Homo sapiens: one gene and its partners. The protein of the gene in region 3 purifies or fractionates together with the protein of the main gene of each other region. This does not show direct contact. Each region holds a gene or a part of one and is shown on either strand. Other genes may lie near its edges. The genes, in order: PGM1, SUCLA2 and GRHPR.

Region 1 (7,108 bases), on a different chromosome or scaffold from region 3:
ATGAGTGGCACCCCACCTAACACAGCAGTACCTGGCAAGACGCCACAGTTTAGGACCTGGAGCATCTCTAGATGTGGACAGAATTGTTAGTGCTTCCCTTACTGTGTGCCGGGTACCCTAGGCTGCAGGCTGGGTCAGGCTTTCTCCTGGCTTCTCATGAACACTTACGCACCAGGGTTCTCTCACCTCTGCTTCTGTTGCCTGTTGTCACAGAGTAAACTCATCTCTCACAATTCATAATAGAATAAAGAGCAGGATGAAGATTCTGTTACAACCTCCCAGTTTACTTTTTTCCAATTGACCCAGATTTTTGGCCTGGTCCTTGTCAAGGCATCTCATAGGGTTTGGAAGGGCCGGGCCGTGGGATTTACTGGAGGCTTCCCTCTGGGGAGCAGGCAGTGAATGGATGGATGGGCCACAGCAACCCTCAGTGCCTGGAGTCTCCCCTCCTCAACTTCTAGCACAAGTGGTTTCTCATCCTTGTGCCTGTTTGCCATTTGTGAGAACTTGGGGTCCAGTTTGGATGATTGTAAATTATGCCTGAGATAATTAGAAGAGAGACCTGTGGTTGAGGAAGAAAGGGGTGTAGAAAAGGAGTGGAGCTGAGGGATGGCAGAGTGGGACAGAAGTTTGTGTCATTAAGCCTTCAGAGACAGAAGGGAAGTCAAGGAAAAGTAAATCCCAGCTCTGCAGTGCCTCTGGCATCTGCCAGGAGGGAGAAGAGGTGTAAAGGTGTGTATAGGAGACAGTGGCCTAAGCTCGAGAGCTGCCCTCTGTGCTGTAAAGAAAGCAGCTGCCCCACTTTCTGTAATCAGAAAATCCAAGCATTTTGATGTGAGACCAGATAGGAGGGAAAAATATGATCCAACATATATAGATAGAACATCTGCAATCTAGTGAAAAGAATTTTAGAGGCTTCAAGTTGAAGCTGTGAAGAAAGGAGACCAACCCTGGTGTGTTCCTAGAAAGCAAGAAATGGTCAGTGAAAATGGACCGTATCCTTCCCATAGTGACTAACTGTGGCATATCCTCTGTGTATTTCATCTACTGTCTTCACTAATCAGTGCTAATGAATGGCACCATTAAACACCAGATGGGGATTGGTGACGAACAGCAGGTGAAGAGCAGCATCTTTTTGGTCAGTCTTTGGTGTTATGCAAGGTTCTCCTTTTTACAGAGGATGGATAGACTCATAAAGACTGAAGAGTCCTCAGGCAACTTCTGTCCCAGCCTTCTTCCCTCAGGTTGGGAAATATCTACCCCAGAGTTCCCACACATTTTTCCCCAAGTGAGAAGATAATTGATGTCCAGAGATACCGCTGGGGAGGAAAAAGAGAGGGCAGCAGAGAGAAGGATGGGCTTGGCACTTCACACGGACCTCGCTTTGGGTCCATCAGGGATTGGCAGGAGATTGGCCACTGGCTCCTGCTTGTTAGGTTGGGAATAGCCAGTCTCTGCCATTTGGGACCTCTGACTTCCTGTTCTCTTTTGAGGACCTTTGCTAGTGGTTTGTAAGAGTCCTTCCCCTCATCTGCCTGAAACCTCTTCAGCTCTGGTTTCAGCCCCTTTGGTCCATGTTTCCCTCTTGATCTGGGGGCTGAATTTTTGCATCTAGCAGCTTTATGTGCTTCATTATTAAGCTTCAAACTGGAATGGTTAGTCCATAAATCACAGGGAAGTGGGGAGAGGAGGGAAGCCCTCACATCACCCAGCATCACTGAGGTCAGGTCTCCCCTGACCCTGGAAATGCTTCTCCCACCGTAGCTAAGCCCCCATCAGCTGGATGCAGAGAGGGTGACGGAAGGCAGGCTCACAAGGTGCAGCTGCTGCCATTTATCAAGGATTTAACCCTCCAATGAACAAGTATGGATGAAATTACATCCCCAAATAGACCCCTCATAATTTGCCAGCCTTCAGTCTCCCAGCATTTGGGGAAAAAAATCTCTGCTTATCTTTTCCAGGGCTTGCGCCTCATTTTCACAGATGGTTCTCGAATCGTCTTCCGACTGAGCGGCACTGGGAGTGCCGGGGCCACCATTCGGCTGTACATCGATAGCTATGAGAAGGACGTTGCCAAGATTAACCAGGACCCCCAGGTAACGCCCAGCCCTGTGCCCTGGTTAGTTCTTTCTGTTCAAGGGAATGATAGTTTCCCATTGAGCCTGTGTTTCAATGCCCATTTCTCAAATGACTCAACAAGGTACCAGCTGTGCTTACTTTCTTCCATGTTTCTTTCTCCATGTCAACATTATAGATAATAATTATAATAATAAAAATAGGGAGGCTGAGGTGGGAGGATCACCTGAGCCCAGGAGGTCAAGCCTGCAGTGAGCCAAGATCACACCACTGCACTTCAGCCTGAGCAAGAGTGAGACCTTATATCAAAAATTAATTAATTAATTAATTAAAAATAAAAAATTTTCTGAGCATTTATGGTTTGCCAGGCTGTGTTGTAAGCCCATTATGAAAATATACTCATTTAATTCTCAAATAACTTAGACTGTTATTCTCCCTGCTACAGATAAGGAAACTGAGGCACAGAAAAGTTAAGCAACAGTTAATAGGTTTACATGCCTAGTAAGGATAATGAATCTCTCTTTTTTTTTTTTTTTTTTTGAGACAGGGTCTCACTCTGTTGCCCAGGCTGGAGTGCAATGGCACAATCTCAGCTCACTGCAACATCCACCTTCTGGGCTCAAGCAATCCTCCTACCTCAGCTACCTGAGTAGCTCGGATTACAGGCACGTGCCACCATGCTCTGCTCATTTCCTTTTTTTTTTTTTTCTTTTTGTAGGGAGGAGGTCTTAGTACATTGCCTAGGCTGGTCTTGAATTCCTAGCCTCAAGTAATCCTCCTACCTCAGCCTCCCAAAGTGCTGGGATTATATGTGTGAGCCACTGCACCCAACCCAGGATAATTGGTCTTTAAATCAGCCCCTCATCTGGTGTTCTGCTCTGTCTGCAGCATTTTGTTGCTTTGTTTGGTCTGATCACCTGCTTGGGCAGAACACACCACTGGGTCTTAGATTTGGTGGGGGCAGGGAGAGGCAGTTTCATGTGTCTTCACAGAACAGTCTGCAGACCTGCAGCTTGGTAAGCTGGGTTCCTCAGCCATTCCCCCAAAAGTCTTCAGAAGTATATCAGAGTAAGGAGGGACTCTGGGAGCAAAGGGTGGGACAGTGAACTTGAAGGACAACCCCCAAAAATGGAGGAGCCAAGGGGAAGCAGTGAAGGACAGGACAGTTTCTTTAAGTGTTTTTCACAATCCTTATCTCAACCAGAGCTCCATAGCTTAAAAAAAAGTTGGGGAAGTGTTGTGGTATATTAGCCCCTTCTTGGTGATTCACAGCATACAATGCAATGCACCATAAAGGCTCCAAGATTTCGGACATGGTGGCCTGCACCTGTGGTCCCAGCTACTCAGGAAGCTGAGGCAGGAAGATCACTTGAGCGTAGGAGTTCTGGGCTATAGTGTGCTATGCCTGTCGGGTGTCTGCACTAAGTTTGGCATCAATATGGTACCTCCCGAGAGGGGAACCACCAGGTTGCATAAGGAGGGGTGAACCGGCCCAAGTTGGAAACAGAGCAGGTCAAAACTCCCATGCCGATGAGTAGTGGGATTGCACCTGTGAATACCCACTGCGCTTCAGCCTGGTGACATAGCAAGACCCCATCTCTAAAAAAAGAAAAGGAAAGAAAAAAAGAGGGTGCTGAGAAGACTTGCAGTAAAGGTGCCTGTTTACATAGCATTTGCTGAAGGACATTTCTCCAAAGAAAACATACAAATGGCCAACAGGCGTATGAAAAGGTGGTCCACATCACTAATCATCAGGGAAATGAAAATCAAAACCACAATGAGCTGTCACCTCACACCTGTTAGGATGGCTGTTCTCAAAAAGACAAAAGATAACAAGTGTTGGGAAGGATGTGGAGAAAAGGGAACCATCAGACACTATTGGTGGGAATATAAATTGGTATAGCTATTTTGGAATAACCAAAATATGGAGGTTCCTCAAAAAGTTAAAAATATTTTAGTACTAATATACGATCCAGTAATCCCTCTTCTGGGTATATATTCAGAGGAACTGAAATAAATATGTCAAAGAGATATCTGTTCTCTCTTGTTCATTCAATATTATTCACAATAGTCAAGATATGGAACCAGCCTAAGTGCCCATCTACAGATGAATGAAGACATTGTGGTGTGTGTGTGTGTGTGTGTGTGTGTGTGTGTGTGTATACCACAATGGAAAATTATTCTGCCTTAAAACAACAAAAACCAAAATCTTGCCAATCTTGCCATTTGCAATAACATGGATGAACCTGGAGGACATTATGCTAAGTGAAATAAGCCAGACACAGAAAGGCAAATACTGCATGATTTCACTTGTATGTGGGATCTAAAAAAAGTGAATCTCATAGAAACAGAGCAGAAAGGGGCTTACTAGGGGGTAGTGAATGGGGAAAATGGAGAGATATTGGTCCAAAGGGTACAAAATTTCAGTTATGTAGGATGTAGCAGTTCTAGAGATGGAATGTACAACATGATGGCTATAATGAATAACACTTGAAATGTACTAGGAGAATAGATCTTAATTGTTCTCACTATCACCACCACAACAAAAAAGGTAAGTAGGTGACAAGATTGATAATGTTAGTTGGCTTGACTCTAGTAATCAGTTCACTATGTATTTGTATATCAAGACATCATATTATATACCTTAAACATAAACAATTTTTATTAAAAAATTGAAAGTAAAATAAAATAAATAGCATTTGCCATGCTTATTTTTCCACAAAGGCTTTTTTCTTTTAACACCTAATTAAAATCCTGTGAAACTCATTTGGAAACCCCTGGCATAGTGGTTTTGAGCAAAGTTAAAGAGATCTTGTTTTAAATTCTATTCCTGCCACTTAATAACTGTGTGTCCCTGGGTAAGTTGTTACAATTTTATGAATCTTGGTTTCCTTGTCTGTCAAATGGCAGAGTAATACCTACTTCATCTAGTTGTTACCGGGGTTTAAGGAGATAATAAATGTAAAATGTTTAAACACTGTGGCTGGCATATAGGATTAACTTTTCAGAATAAGCAGCACTCTTAGTTTTTTTAGTCTAACTTTAAGTGTAACATAATGCTATTATAACCATTTTTAAGTATATAGTTTAGTAATGTTGTACATATTCATATTGTTGTCCAACGTATCTCTAAAACTTTTTTCCCCCAAAACTAAAACTCTGTACCCATTGAACAGCACCTCCCTGCTTCTCCCTTTTCACAATCCCTGGTACCACCTTTCTCCTTCCTGTGTCTGTGAATTTGACCATTGTAGGTACCTCACATGAGTAGTATAGTTGCTTTTATTACAGAAAGTGGGAGATGAGAGAATGCTTCACTTTTACATTTTTTCCAGTGGCCAGGCCCCAGTTTCAGTCATCACCAGTACCTTGTTGTGTTGTAGGCATCCCTAAAACTTCAACCAAAGGCAATGGGGTCTGCATTATAGACACTTAATAGCACAAGAGAAAAGGAAGAAGGAAATTGTGTTTGTCTTTTGATCATCAAGATAAATGCCTGGCACGTGGTAGATTCAAAGAGTGAATGAAATTTGTTTCCTCTGAACCATAGTCCTCAGCAGGTGGAATGGCAGTGGATGGTGTGAGGTTCCCACAATGCCCAGGTGTATCACCATCTAGCCGGGGAGCTGCCTTTCCTTATTCTGCAGCTGCTAGGCCATCAGCACTTTGTGGGGACTGCCCAAGCCCTAAGGGGAAATGTGGTAGTTTCAGCAGGTGGAGTTGATTCTCCTTTTCCAGGTATAATGGATCGGTGGAGATTTAGATAAGAAAAAGTAGCATTCAGCAGTAGAAAATGTACTACTCCTGGCTCTGCTATTGAGTCATTTAGTCAAATCACTTCATCTCTTTGGGTATCAGTTTTCTCATCTGTAAAATGGGCAGTTCAACCAGATTAGTAGTTTTTTTTTTTTTTTAATATTGAAAGCATTTATTAAGCAACAGAATTCTCTCTTTTTTTTTTTTTTCTTTAAGCGAGAAGTAGATGTGGGGAGGGGTTGTTGCATTTTTAAAGATTCCTGTATTAGGCCGGGTGCGGTGGCTCACGCCTGTAATCCCAACACTTTGGGAGGCCAAGGCAGGCAGATCACCTGAGGTCGGGAGTTCAAGACCAGCCTGACCAACATGGAGAAACCCCATCTCTACTAAAAATACAAAATTAGCCGGGCGTGGTGGCGCATGCCTGTAATCCCAGTCACTAGAGAGGCTGAGGCAGGAGAATTGCTTGAACCTGGGAGCCAGAGATTGTGGTGAGCCAAGATCGCAGCATTGCACTCCAGCCTGGGCAACAAGAGTGAAACTCCATCTCAAAAAAAAAAAAAAAAGATTCCTGTATTAGTCTGTTTTCACACTGCTGATAAAGACATACCTGAGACTGGGCAATTTACAAAAGAAAGAGGTTTAATTGGACTTACACTTCACGTGGCTGGGGAAGCCTCACAATCATGGTGGAAGGCAAGAAAGAGCAAGTCATGTCTTACATGAATGGCAGCAGGCAAAAGAGAGAAATTGTGCAGGGAAACTCCTGTTTTTAAAACCATTAGATCTCATGAGACCCATTCACTATCATGAGAACAGCACAGAAAAGACCCACCCCCATGATTCAATCATCTCCCACCGGGTCCCTCCCACAACACTTGGGAATTATGGGAGCTACAAGATGAGATTTGAGTGGGGACACAGAGCCAAACCACATCAGTCCCATTGGGAACAGTGTGGGAAAGAAATTGGAAGATGCACAAGTGGATGTGGAGGCACTCACTGCTCCAGGTAAGAGACAGGACATTGACTTAGCAAGACTTAACAGCAGGAGAGTGGAGAGAAAAGGGGGCCATGGAGAGAGATTTAGCGGGGAAAAGTCATTGAGGCCTGCTCATGGACTGGGCATGGGGAAAATGCAGAGGAAGATGTCAGGAGCAACTCCTAGTTGTTCACTTTACATGAAAGACTGTAGTGTTGATCCACTGAAATAGAAACTGCTGGAACTAGGTATTGGGGGAAATAACATGTGTTTGTTTTTGGATTTGTGGAGTTT
Region 2 (7,108 bases), on a different chromosome or scaffold from region 3:
GTCTCACTCAGTTAAATGCCAAAGTGCTTACAATGGCCTAGAAGACCTTATAATACCCTCTACACTTTTTATCTCCTAGGCCCTCCTGGTTGCTCACTCTGTTCCAACTGCACTAATCCCCTCACTATTCCTGGGCATGTTCCTGCCTTCAGGACTTGGCTCTAATGCACCCTCTGCCTAGAATACTCTTCACCAGGTGTCCATGTGGGAAAAGCCCCCGATCCTTCAAGTTTCTCTTTAAATCTCATGTTGCCCATGAAGCTTACCCTACTAACCTGCCCACCTGTGACCAATCCCCCTTACCTACTACACTTCTTTCCGCCATAGAATTCATCATCTTCGTACATATGTAATTCTCTTACATATATCATTTGTTGTTTTGCTTCCCCATCAGAAAAGAGGCCCAGGAGGGCAGAATCTTTGTTGTATTCATAGATGTTAACAAGCGTCTGGGAGAGTTCCTAGCACATAATATTTTGCTGAATGTTGAAAAAAAGGAACATTTAAAAATATGAACAGAATTCTTATAAATCTAGATTTCTTCACTGCTCTTACGAAAACTCCCAATGGGAAAAACTGGGTGCACAGTACTACAACTAGAGCTGATTAGAAAAAGTATCTTGTTTAGATAAGACAAACCCTTTTCAATTACCCTGTCTCTACTATTCACAAATGTATCACAACTAATATTAGGTAACAAATAGAAACAACTCAGAAATTTCCTTAAAACCAACAATAACGTTCTTATTGAGAATACTACAGGTTGTCTCTGAACCATGGCAAATTAGAGAGTTTGTGCCCAAACGGAAGGGAGCAGCCACTATTTATTCCACTTGTTTCTGTTTACCTGTCCAGTCCTGATTTTCCAGCACTTTAAATATTTGTTTATATCCGAAGAAGAGAACTACAAGGCAAACAGTGCAAATGTAATGTAAAAAATGGTCATAGTTACACTGTGCTTTACTGAGCTAAATTCAATCATTCCTATTCATTAAACTGGGAACTTAACACATTGACCTATTAAGAGTAACGAAGCTCTATTTTTTCAAAAACACTTGGCAAGACAGAAGGTTCTTCTCTTCCCCGCAAAGTGTCAATTTCCTTTCTTTAGGAATATAAAGTCTTTAAGGGCAAAAGATGATTCTTCGAAAGTTCCTTCTAAAAAAAAAAAGCCCTTCACAACGAAAGCAAAAAAAAAAAAAAAAAAAAAATTTTTCATGAAATACAGTCTCATCAACTATCAAGAAAGGAAGAAAGATTAGAAGAGAAGTCTGAGGACAACTGGTCGAAACAAACATTTTATTCAATTCCATTAATTCACTCAACAGGTTCATCTACATACCAGACACTGTGCTAGCGTTGTAGATACAACAGTGAGTGAGACCTCTCCTGCCCTCATAGAACCTGCAGTCTTATTACATTTGGCACTGCTCTAGTCAGACAAGATCTTTTTTGGATCCCAAGACTGTCTCTAAAACACAATCACTATCCCAGCTACCTTTAGTCACTCACAAACATTTTAAGCATTCCTTGTATACAGGTATCTAACTAATAAATATTTAAAAGAAAGAAAGAAGGTAAAGTCCTATTATATGCCATTAGAAATCTCCCTCCGGGCTGACATTCATTAATCAGCACCCTTTACATGTATCTATTCAACCAGATAGGGATTCCACCTTAAATATACTAGAAGCCAAACTATCTTTCTATAGTCAATAGGGAAATTATAAAAATTCTGCCAAATCTGTGCCCAGGCGCAGTGGCTCACGCCTGTAGTCCCAGCACTTTGGGAAGCCAAGGGTGGGTGGAAGGCTTGAGCCCCGGAGTTTGAGACCAGCCTGGGCAACATGGTGAAACCCCATCTCAAGAAAAAATACAAAAATTAGCCAGGCATGGTGGAGCACACCTATAGTCCCAGCTACTCAGCAGGCTGAGACGGGAGAAGTGGCTTGAGCCCAGGAGGTCGAAGCTGCAATGAGCCATGATCACACCACTGCACTCCAGCCTGGGTGACAGAACAAGACACTGTCTCAGAAACAAAACAACAAACATTCTGCCAAACCCTTACTAAAATCATATTTCCTTGAACTATGAACTGTTAGAGATAATTTGCTCTCAGAACTGACCCCAAATAATATCTACTACATTTATCTGTGCTAATAACCATCCCTTTGATAATCTATTCCAGAAACTTCATGATCTTCAAGCTCACCAACCTTCATTTTGGGGACTCATATAGTCTTTTAAAATATTAGAATTAGATTTCTTTCTAACCATTCCTCCATTCCTAACCTCAATTATTCACAGCAGGTAAAACTTGCCTACAGGACAATGCCTCTCAACTTTTTTCACATCATCACACAAACAGAAAATGATGGACATGGTAGGAAATACTGGGTAAAGAGGCTCAGTGGCCCCAAACCCCATGCTAACTCAACTTCTCCTGCCACCACAGGACTGGGAAGAAACAATAGTTTGGCACACCTGTAAAGCATTTATGTTCTATTATGTCACTTGTTGAGCAAAGCGCTGAGTTAAGAGTTTTTATGAAGGCCAGGCCTGGTGGCTCACGCCTATTGTAATCCCAGCACTTTGGGAGGGTGAGGCAGGTGGATCACCTGAGGTCGGGAGTTTAAGACCAGCCTGATCAACATGGAGAAACCCTGTCTCTACTAAAAATACAAAATTAGCCGGGGTGGTGGCACATGCCTGTAATCCCAGCTACTCAGGAGGCTGAGGCAGGAGAACTGCTTGAACCCAGGAGGCAGAGGTTGCTTGAACCCAGGAGGCGGAGGTTGCGGTGAGCTGAGATGGCGCCATTGCACTCCAGCCTGGGCAACAAGAACGAAACTCCGTCTCAAAAAAAAAAAAAAGAGTTTTTATGAAATGAAAATTAGCATTTTATGAATTTTGCAGAAAGTCAAAAAGCAAAAATCACCCTGAAGTAATGAAAACTCAGCATTGGGAATTGCTAGCTACATGAACAAAACCAAGTGTATTTCTAAGGTCCCTCATTCTACACCTTGTGCAACTAGATCCCATAATCGTTATCTTTTGTTATCAATGACTCACTAAAAACACAAAATTGGGCTGGGTGCGGTGGCTCACGCCTGTAATCCCAGCACTTTGGGAGGCCTAGGCGGGTGGATCACAAGGTCAGGGGTTCGAGACCAGCCTGACCAACATGGTGAAACCCCGTCTCTACTAAAAATACAAAAATTAGCTGGGCATGGTGGCGGGCACCTGTAATCCCAGCTACTCAGGAGGCTGAGGCAGGAGAATTGCTTGAACCTGGGAGACGGAGGTTGCAGTGAGCCGAGATCGCGCCACTGCACTCCAGCCTGGGCGACAGAGTGAGACTCCGTCTCAAAAAAAAAAAAAAAAAAAAAACCACGAAATTGTCCTCCATATTTTCATAGACGTTTCTAAATTTATCTTTTAAAAACTAGCATTTCTGCTCCTCTAGATTTAAATTTCCTTGTTAATTATTAGTCTCCCTCCCACACTATAATCATCATTTGCAATATTCTTTGACAAAAAACACACTTTCTAAATGAACAAGGTATCTGTTCCAAGGGGCTCAAAATCAGAGCTGCCTACCTGCTTCTTATTACTTGTGAGTTCTGGTCCCAGAGAACTTGCCAGAAATACTCATAGTTACAGTTTATCCTGCACATATTATTTCTTTCTTCTGTACCTAAGAATCATTAAGTTTTTATAAGGCATAATCAAAACAGATTGGCATCTGAATTAATCCTATTCATTTTATGAAAAAGTTTCTATGCAAATTATTTTTTCTGACAAAACAATGGAATTTCACTAAATGAGAAAATATACGGAAAACTAGTTAAAGAAACCAATTATAATACTCAAAAAATAGACACAGTGGCATGTGCCTGTAGTTCCAGCTACTCAGAGGCCTAAGTAGGAGGATCACTTGAGCCCAGGAGTTTCAGACTAGCCTGGGCAACATAGTGACCCTATCTCTAAAAAAAATTTTTTTTTGGAATTTTAAAATCTGGAAACAAGAGGAAAACCATTTTTACCGACGTAATTATATATAAATCAGGTCCCATTAACATTAACCATGCAGAAGTTCCAATTATAGGTCACCATTAACAAAAATTTCACCACAATTAGTATGAACTTATACAAAGCTTTTGCTTAATAAAAAGTTTGCTTGTAATCTGATTTAAAATAATTCTTTCTGATTAACAACAATAAAAACAACAAAACTATAAATGAAAAATCATGCTTCCAAGTCAAGGAAATCATGGCCATCTCATTCAAAAACATAGCTTATATGACAGTTTTCTGAACTTGTATATATCCTTAATTTTGAAAGAAAAATCCATTCTAGATACAAATAAGTACTACACAAGATGAATACTTTTAAAATTTCAATCACTTTGAAAATGCTCATCTTTCTTAAAAAATATAAAAGCAAAGTATTCACCAAATCATATTTAAAGCCTATTAATTAAATGTACATAGAAGAGAGATTATTTATGCTAATCTACGTAAAATTGGTGGGATTTAAAATACTGCTAAAAAGAAACTGCAGTGTATAGCTAGTACATCAGCTCATGGTTTTCATGCTAAATCTTTAAAAATGTAAGCTTATTTTCTGAAATCAAAAATTATTTTTTGATTAAGAGATTAATTCAAATTGACAAAAGCTATTAAGGCTTCTGTTATCAATAAAGGAATCTGCTAATAAACATGGGCAACTATTAAATTCATTTAATATTTATTCATTTAGTATTTATTGATTACCTAAGTGTCAGGCATTCTTCTAAGATTTTGGGATATATCAGTGAACAAATAAGAAAAAGAAACTCGGGCTGTATGTGGTGGCTCACACCTGTAATCCCAGCACTTTGGGAGGCGGAGGCGGGCAGATCACGAGGTCAGGAGTTCAAGACCAGCCTGGCCAACATAGTGAAAACCCGTCTCTACTAAAAATACAAAAAAATTAGCCGGACATGGTGGTGGTGCTTGTAATACCAGGTACTCGGGAGGCTGAGGCAGGAGAATCCCTTGAACCCGGGAAGCGGAGGTTGCAGTGAGCCAGGATTGCACCATTGCACTCCAACCTGGGCAATAAGAATGAAACTCCGTCTCAAAAAAAAAAAAAAAAGAAAAGAAAAAGAAACTCTGCTCTCAAGGAGTTTACATTCTAGCACTCTACTTTTTGTTCCCCTTTGGTTCCATATTTTTCATGACAAAAAAATGGAGGGGGAAGCACGGACCTCTCCTTATAAGCACATAAACAGCTAAGATTTTCCTTCACCATTTCCCTGAAGAATCATCACAACTGCCATCCTTTAAGCTCCAGAGTAGTTAGAGTGGTAGTAGTAGAATTCCCTTCCCCATAATTATATTCCAACTAAAAACAGGACTTCAGCTTCCTAATGCCAATGTAAGTGACTCCCACGTCACTGGCATTATGGGTGCTCATAATAATAATAATAATAATAATTTTAGAATTTCAATAATAATAAAGTTCTACCTTCTATTTTAAGCAAAGAAAATGTATTTTTTTTAAAAAAAAGCTAAAAGTTGTTATCAAACCAAAAACAAACTTCAAATCTTCTCAGAGCTCTCATGTCAAGGTGGCAAAAGCTTTTCTTAATTTAGTACCTAATTTTTTGGCAATTGCATAAGCTTCATCTGGTGACTTTGCCACATATCCTTTGGGAACGGAGACACCAGCTTCTTGCAATAATTCCATACTCATGTATTCATGTAGTGAGAGATTCCTTTGCTGTTGCTGCTGTACTTGGAGTCCATGGTTATTAAACAATCCAGAACTTCCCAGAACCTAGAAAGATTGGGGACATATTTATATATGACAGTGATTTGGCAGTCACTCTTGCTAACTACTTGGTTCTTCATAACTATAACAAAACTGTTACATTACATTAGCAAAGTACAATATTCAGAGTACCTGAATTACAGCATAAAACTAAAAGCTAGCCTATCAGCTAAATATCACTGTTACCACTGTCATTTTAATTATTTCCTCATCATCTCTATTCCTTATTTCAGATTTCAGCTTTACTATCATATCTCCAATGATCTACAGGGCAGTTCTACCTCAATGCCAAATTCAGCGGATCTAAAACCAATCTCATCTTTTCCACCAAACCAAAAATCCTTCCCAATTTTCTTCTCTCTACCATTCCTCCACACCTAACAAGTCACCTGGCACTAGATATGTAATAATAAAATGATTTGATACCATTACTCTTTCATACACTCGATATTCAAAACCATGGCTTCATCTGTAGTGGATGTTGCAGTATGCTGCCCAGATCTCCCTGGCACTCCCCATTCAGGACCAAGGCATTCATAGCCCCCACTGCTGCTGCTGGGAGTGCTGGTTGCTGACAGCTCTCAGCCAAGTCCTCTTACTGGAGCCTACTTGCCCAAAGTCACACCTCCTTCCCACTGTCAGCCTGCACCCAATGACTGGTCAATGGAATCACACATTTAAATGTTATCCACGCATTTCCATAATCTCAATACAGAATGCAGTATACTGAAACATGGTTCATATGAAACACACAGTGTCCTAAGAATTAAATTTAAAGAGGTCATAGAAACAATCTGTTTCTTAAAGTAGGTTCATAAGCTTTTGCCTCAAAATTAACTGGGTGCTTGTAATCTGCAGATTCCTGAGACCCATTCTCAACTGCACTATTAGAATCTCTGGACTGGGCCCAAGGAAATCTGCATTCATAACAAGTCACTCAGTTGATTCTTAAGAACCCTACAGTTATGAGAACTACTAGTCTTACAAATCAATCATATATAATAGCAACTTATTTCTGATCCATTTAGCAAGCTAAAATCCTTGGTAACATTTGACCTAGGTAGCTCAATTCCTTGATTTAGTGTCACTTCAATATTAAAAGCCAGCAACCAAGCTGGGCACAGTGGCTTACACCTATAATCCCAGCTACTCCTGAGACTGAGGCAGGAGGATCCCTTCAGCTCAGGAGTTTGAGACTGCAGTGAGCTGTGATTTCACCACTGTCCTCCAGCTTGGTCAACAGAGCAAGACCCTGTCTAAAAAAACAAATAAATAAGTTAAAAAAAAAAA
Region 3 (7,108 bases):
CAATTTATAGTAACAGGTTTTACACGAGTCACTGTGGTGTAACACATGGAGACATGTAGTCAGCCCACTTTGTTGTTGTTGTTGTTTTGGAGATGGAGTCTCACTCTGCCACCCAGGCTGGAGTGCAGTGGCACAATCTCGGCCTACTGCAACCTGTGCCTCCTGGGTTCAAGCGATTCTTCTGCCTCAGCCTCCCAAACAGCTGGGACTATAGGCATGCACCACCATACCTGGCTAATTTTTGTATTTTTAGTAGAGATGGGGTTTCACCATATCGGCCAGGTTGGTCTCGAACCCCTGACCTCGTGATCCACCCACCTCAGCCTCCCAAAGTGCTGGGATTACAGGCATGAGCCACCACGCCTGGCCCACTCTTTTTTTTTAAACAAATCCACTCACACCTACATTCTGTTCCTTTAGGGACAGAGACCCAGCAGAGCATGCGCAAGAGGACTGCTCCTGTCATACACCCATGTCACTGACAACATAAACATTTACGATCCCTGGTGTGTCCCTTTGGGTTCAACACCTGCTCACACTAGCTCCACACCCGGCCCCTTGGGACCCCCTCAAAAACACTGGTCCTGCAGGGCAGCAGGGAGTTTGCATCAGAAAGTGCAGTTCTTACCACAGTTCTTCAGGGTCAGGAGAGGGTGGTTTGTAGGCAGTGGTTCTGGGCTCGTCACATCCAGTCCAGCAGCTGCAATCTTACCACTGGCCAAGGCCTGGTACAGGTCGTCCTGGTTTACGACGTCGCCCCTGGGAATGACAGTGGTGACATGGGTACCCCGAAGATCCCTCCGCCCAGGCCACCTTTGAGGCAGAACAACCTACAGAATGAATTTTTCCACTCACTTGGCACTGACTTTTAAAGCAGTAAGTCTTAGGTATACTTACAGTATGTCTGTAAGTCTTATATACTCAGAGAACTCCAGCCCTGCCTCCTTCTAGCTGTGTGACCTTGGGCAAGTGTCTCAAATTCTCTGTGCCTCGAATTATCTGTGTCTCAAATTATCTACTCTGTGAGATAAGGAGAATACCACCTAACTCCCAGGCATGTTGGGAGGATTAAAGCTTTCTTACATGCTCTACTGCATGAACAGGGCCCAGAAGGGCATCTGTGTTAGGCCCCATCCAAGTGTTTCTGATCTGGTTGACCCCCAGACCCCCACTGAGAAGCACCACAGTGTGCTATCAGGTACCTGTCTAAACCAGGGCAGAGGAACGAGCACACCCCTAACCACAGCCATCAAAGGGAGCGGCGACTGAAGGCAAGAAGTCATCTTCTAGAGACTGTATATTGTGCACTAAGTAATACTTGTGCACTAATGAGTAATACACGGTCCTGGGCTGTCCTGGGTACATGCAGGCACCCAGTACACGGCAGCTGTGACTGCTGCCAGCCAGCAGTGCGAGCCCTGTGGTCCTGCATGTTTCACTCTTCCATTCCCAGGTCACCTGTTTTGTAGCTAAATGTTGGTAATTACAGGTACCTTTGGGGTGGACGAGTCCTCAGGATGACCTCACCCAATCCCCCTTCCCCTAAACTGATGTAAACAGGCTCAAGGGGCACCAGCTAGGAAGGGCTTGGAGTGGCAGAGAAGGAAGGTCTGACCTCCATACATGCCCAGTGGCCTGAAGGCACCCCTAGGGACAGTGTGAGGAGCTACGACCACGTGAGTTTTAGGGTCTGTCCGCCCAGGAGCATAAGGTTCAAAGTATCACTGAACCACAGCCAGACAAAGCCAGGCTCAGCAGTGTGGGAGGCGGCCTCCAGAGGGCCCTTCAGATCCTCAAGTCCAGCCCTTTGTGGTGGAGGATAATGGGCCTGCAGAGGCTCCCTGGGAACACTCCCTGAAGCCACGCTGCTGTGTGCCAGGCCCCGCCGGGTGGGGGCCACTGCTGAGAAGCAGACAGGCCAGGCCCACTCTGACGGCTCTTCTTCCCTGTACGGAGGTCTCGTGTATTCCCACGAATTTCTGAGTTGGTTGTTTGGTTTATGGAAACCAGCAAGCTCAGCCTGGGGTCTCACCAACAACCCACGGGGAAGAAAATCTCCAGATGGCAGCAGTGGGGATGGCTCCTCTCCAGGCTTGCTGGGTAAGGTGGCCCTAGGATACCTGCTGATGTTGATGAACACAGCTGTTTCCTTCATCTTCTGGAAGAAGTCCTTGTTGCAGAGTCCCTCGGTTGCAGGTGTTAAGGAGCAGGCCACGACGATGAAATCAGATTGGGCAGCCAGCTCAGGGGTAGACACTGAGGGAGGGCAGGACTCCATCAGGCACTGAGTCCCAGGCTAGGGACAACCAGATGGCGGGAGACCAGCCCCTTGCTCCCGACTCCCTAACAGAAACTCCCAAGATGCTTCCTGAAGGCCGAGTCTCTACCTGGACAACTCTCATGAGTGCACAAAGTCAAATCACACACAGTGGGATCTGGACCACTCTGGCTTTAACTACCTTCAGGGCCCAAAGTGCCCAGGGGCGTGGGGAATGCTTGAGATCCAGCCTGCCATCTGCTCACCAGGCTGTGGACCCGCCAGGTGCTGGATCCGCCTGGACTAAGGGGCGCACACAAAGGCTAGGGTAGTGCTTGCCAGTTTATGAAGGAAAAGACAGTGAAAGTGCCCAGCCCTTCCTCACACCCACCACCATCCCCGCTGCTCCGCCCACAATGGGGAATGGTAACAAAGGACTCTGAAAGACGGGAGCCCTGGACTGCTCTGCTGGCTCGGAGAGGACCTGGGTAAGTCCCTGTGCTCCCTGAGTGGGCCAGTGTCCAGGGGCAGGTAGATTAAACATCTACCAGACAGCAGCCCCTGGACATGCCTGGAGCTCCTGCCCTCTGCCTGAAAATGCCACCATTGAGAGAAAATACAGCCTCTCAACTGGGCACAGATAGGCTCCTGTGGAAATCAAGGCTTCACTTACCAAACTCTGCCTGGAATTCTGCTGCTTCCTCAGGCCTGGGCTGGCGCCCTGTGTACAGAAATCTCTGGACACCGAATGGTTTCAGACGCCGAGCAATGGCCTGGCCTAGAGCAAGGAGAGTCCATGTCTCGTTCCCAGTCCCGCAAAGGGTAGGGACACCACCCAGCATTTCTGGAACAGCGGCCCTCAGGGCAGACCCTTTTCATCAGCACAGCCCGAGTTGCCTGCTCCTGTCTCCTCCAAAGCGGGTGGGGGGCTGGCTGCCCCACTGTAACTAGCCCCCAGCCAGCCCACACTGCCCCAGGGATCTGGAGACAGCACCTCAGCTCCCCTGAGGCTGTGACTGGCTGATGCTGTCCTCACATGGTCCAAGCCATCTGGAAAGCCACTCAGGTTTTTCCTAACCTCTGAGAACTGGAGAGGTTTTCACAAGGGAGACACCTGGTCAAGCAGTCCCCTCCTTTGTCCTGGACCCTCTGCTTCTGTGAATGCAGTCTCAGACCCCATTTGACTTTTTGGTGGCACTGCCAAACTGCCAGCTCACCCCAAACTTACAATTTTCATGTAAGCTGCTGCTGAGACAGATTTGTACAGTTGGATTTTCAGGCTCAGAACGTGCCCCAAAGCTGTTGGGTTCCTCCAAGCAACTCTCTAGTGAGAGGCAGGGCTGTTCGTTGGCTAGACAGGTTCTCCACACTCTCCACCCTCACCCGCACCCCTGCACCAGGCAGGATGACAGAGAACCACCAATAGATAGCTGCTTGGCTAGGCTCACGCCCTTCTGCCAGGCTTCTCCAAATAAGGGCCACTGGAAGAAAAGTGTCTCTGCCTCATCTGCAGAACTGCAGATCAACTCTGCCCACTGAGCCCTCCGGCCCGAGTTAGGGCTTTGTGAGTCACATACCTTCCAGAACGCAAGCCGGAGTAGGTGTCGGGGGAATGGGCTCTCTCACGGTAACCACTCCTAACGGCCCCAACACATTTGTAGTCTTCATCTGTTCTTTATGGAGCCGGAATCATGAAGCCCCCTGACCCTTAGGCAACTTGCTTTTATCACCTGGTGAGTTCTTAAGGAATCCTGCTTTGGTTTATTTATGTATTTGCCTGTGTTTTACAAAGCTGTATCCCTCATTAGAGATATCTCTACTGCAAGCAAAGTGCCCTGACAGCATGTGGGTCTTCTCAGCCTTCAGACACGTGGTGCCAGGGATGCAAACCACGCTGTGAGAGCCGGGGCGGGCAAGCGGGCCGGTGGGAGCCTCACCTATGCGCCCCAGCCCGATGATGCCGACAGTGCTCTGCGTGAGTCCATAGCCACACAGCCAGAGGGGCTTCCACGAGGTCCAGCCACCACTGAGGGGAGAGAGAGGGGCAGGTGAGAGGCCCAGCCTTGGACCAAGATGGGGGCCGCTGAGAACCCGGCACCTCTGACTGTGGTCCAAGGTATAAACCCACCCTCCAGGTCACGGACTGAGAGTGGGATGAGGCACTGCCACTCGGCACTGCAGATGAGCAGCAGAAACGACTCCACCTTTAAAGCCACCAGAGACATAGAACTTGAGGGCGGGAAGGGGCCTTACTGGCTCTCATCCTGTTTTGCAGATGGGAAAACAAACCAGAAAGGGTGACTTGCCTGAGGTCACACAACCAGGGAAGAGTTGAGAGCAACAGGCTGCAAACTCAGGATTTATGATTCCAAAACAAGTTCTCTTGGCACTTTAGGGCAGCAACAAAGAGTACAGCCACAGGGCCCACCCTGCTGCCCTGGGCAAGAGATGGAGCCTGCCCTGAGCCACCTCCAGTAGATGTGATGACTCCCCAGACAGGACAGTGAGCAGGACTCAGCACTGTCTACTCTGCTCCATGCCCCGTGCCGGGGCCCACGCTGCTGGCCACGCACTGTGAGAGCCTGCGTTTGCACGCCTCCCACCTTGACTCGGGCCAGTCCCTCCATCTGCACATGGAATGCTTCCCCCAACTTTTTTTTTTTTTTTTTTTGGAGACAGGGTCTTGCTGTGTCGCCCAGACTGGAGTACAGTGACATGATCTCGGTTCACTGCAGCCTCTGCCTCCTGGGTTCAAGCAATCCTCCCACCTCAGCCTCCCGAGTAGTTGGGACTACAGGCGTGTAACACCACGCCTGCCTAATTTTTGTATTTTTTGTAGAGACAGACTTTTGCCACATTGCCCAAGCTGTTCTCCAACTCCTGAGGCTCAAACAATCTGCCCGCCTCGGCCTCCCAAAGTGCTGGGATTACAGGTGTGAGCCACCGTGCCCGGCCAACTCTAACTCTTGATATACAGGCCGAAATCCCTGATCTGAAACCTTCAGGCTAGATTTTAAAACTGTTTGGCCTTTAGAAAGGCAGCATGGCGCACGTGGTAGATTCCACACATCACCCTCTGCAGTGTCTGGGCAGCAGCCTGTTTTAAAAGTGTTACATCTGCAGCAAAACTTAGGAAAGTCACATTAAATGGGAGAAATAAAAGCCTTAAATAGTCTCCTGTTAGTATGAAAGAACTTTCAGCTGTCCGAGCTTTTTAGATTTTGGGATCTAAGGGATGGTGGACCTGCAGCTTTCAGGACTCAAGCGGACGCCCACCTGCTACTTATTCTGTGAAGCCCTCCCTGATCCACACTCTCCCTGCCAGCCCTCACCCACCAGCAGAACTTGTTTGTCCTCCCTCATCCTCTTCTCTCACCACTTCCCTTTCTGCCCTTATTGCAGCTCTGCTTTGTGCTTTATTTTAGCTGAGTCCTCACTCAATGGGGCACACCTGGGGTCAGGGACTATGCGTGGGCTGGACTGGCACAGTGATCAGGATCCAGTGCTGAGCAGAGCCAACGTTCCTGCCAGGCGTTCACTTATTTTTCTTTTTTTTTTTGAGACAGAGTCTCACACCGTCACCTGGGCTGGAGTGCAATGGTGTGATCTCAGCTCACTGCAACCTCTGTCTCCTGGGTTCACATGATTCTCCTGCCTCAGCCTCCCAAGTAGCTGGGATTACAGGGACCCACCACCACACCCAGCTAATTTTTTTTGTATTTTTACTAGAGACGGGGTTTCACTATGTTGGCCAGACTGGTCTCGAACTCCTAACCTCATGATCCGCTCACTTTGGCCTCCCAAAGTGCTGGGATTACAGCCGTGAGCCACCGCACCTGGTCTGCGTTCACTTACTTCTTCACTTCCTCGATGGCCTCCGGCAACCGGCGGCAGGTGGTAAGTAGCAGGGAGACTGCGAGTTCGGCGGTGGTATCTGTCAGGACATCTGGGGTGTAGCCAACTCGGATCCCACTACGAATCAGACATCTGGTGGTAACATCAGCCTCAACCATATTTACCAATGTCTACTGCTGGGACATTTCCATGGAGTTACTTTGCTCCCTCTTTGATCTGCCTGCCAGGAAGCTCAGAACTATAAATGAGCACTCAAAAACGGGCAGTCCTCATTCCTATTTAGATTATCTCCCACTTTGGAAGGATATGAAGATGGAAGATCAGGGTTCAGGGACTGAACAAGTAACTTAACCTTTCTGAATTTCCTCATCTGAAACAGAAAGAATAACACCTGCCTTTGCTACTTCAAGGTATTGTTGTGGGGATCAAAAAAGATAATGAATGTGAAAGGGTGCCACCTACACAGAAGTTACCCACTGTTTCTGACTGCTGGGGTTTATTGTAACTGACCTGTGCACATGTGGACAGATTCTATCATCAGCCACCTCACATTCTCCCTGAATGGCCGAGGGATATGCAGTAAAAACAAATCAACAGCTCTTCTTTCTCTCATAGCCACCCCTCTCTCTAGGCCCCCTCCAGATCCCAAGCTGCAGTTACCGCTTCTTGATTTCATCCAAAGCCAAGTGGTCGATGCCCACAGACATGGTGCTGATGACTTTGAGATTGGCCCCTGTTGTGCAGAAAGTGCATTGTTAGTATCTTTCCTCGAGGAACTCAAAGCCACAGCACTGGGGACTATCATGGGGACACCGCTTATTATTGTTTTCTTAGAATAAGAGGCTGACATCTCTGTTCTTCAGTTAAAACTCTGAATAATCCCCTTTGACAGCCTCAGACACTGCAGTTCAGGGAGGTTAAGTGGCCTGGCTCAGTCACAGGCAGAGCCGGGTTCACCTCAGGGCCTCTGCCACCAAGGCCCCGCTCTTACCCACT

Evidence for each region.
Region 1: the proteins of GRHPR (region 3) and PGM1 fractionate together in Homo sapiens (co-fractionation; 3 studies listed by BioGRID). This does not show direct contact.
Region 2: the proteins of GRHPR (region 3) and SUCLA2 fractionate together in Homo sapiens (co-fractionation; 2 studies listed by BioGRID). This does not show direct contact.

What each region holds. Positions count from the first base shown.
Region 1 is NC_000001.11:63,652,371-63,659,478, forward strand, and holds part of PGM1 (phosphoglucomutase-1), read left to right. Parts: intron 1-1,961; coding exon 1,962-2,096; intron 2,097-7,108. UniProt on the Homo sapiens protein: Catalyzes the reversible isomerization of alpha-D-glucose 1-phosphate to alpha-D-glucose 6-phosphate. The mechanism proceeds via the intermediate compound alpha-D-glucose 1,6-bisphosphate.
Region 2 is NC_000013.11:47,991,200-47,998,307, forward strand, and holds part of SUCLA2 (succinate--CoA ligase [ADP-forming] subunit beta, mitochondrial precursor), read right to left. Parts: intron 5,825-7,108; coding exon 5,644-5,824; intron 1-5,643. UniProt on the Homo sapiens protein: ATP-specific succinyl-CoA synthetase functions in the citric acid cycle (TCA), coupling the hydrolysis of succinyl-CoA to the synthesis of ATP and thus represents the only step of substrate-level phosphorylation in the TCA.
Region 3 is NC_000009.12:37,425,659-37,432,766, reverse strand, and holds part of GRHPR (glyoxylate reductase/hydroxypyruvate reductase), read right to left. Parts: intron 6,846-7,108; coding exon 6,773-6,845; intron 6,230-6,772; coding exon 6,113-6,229; intron 4,284-6,112; coding exon 4,195-4,283; exon of another isoform or gene 3,926-4,194; coding exon of another isoform or gene 3,835-3,925; intron 3,036-3,834; coding exon 2,931-3,035; intron 2,257-2,930; coding exon 2,121-2,256; intron 760-2,120; coding exon 629-759; intron 1-628. UniProt on the Homo sapiens protein: Enzyme with hydroxy-pyruvate reductase, glyoxylate reductase and D-glycerate dehydrogenase enzymatic activities. Reduces hydroxypyruvate to D-glycerate, glyoxylate to glycolate, oxidizes D-glycerate to hydroxypyruvate.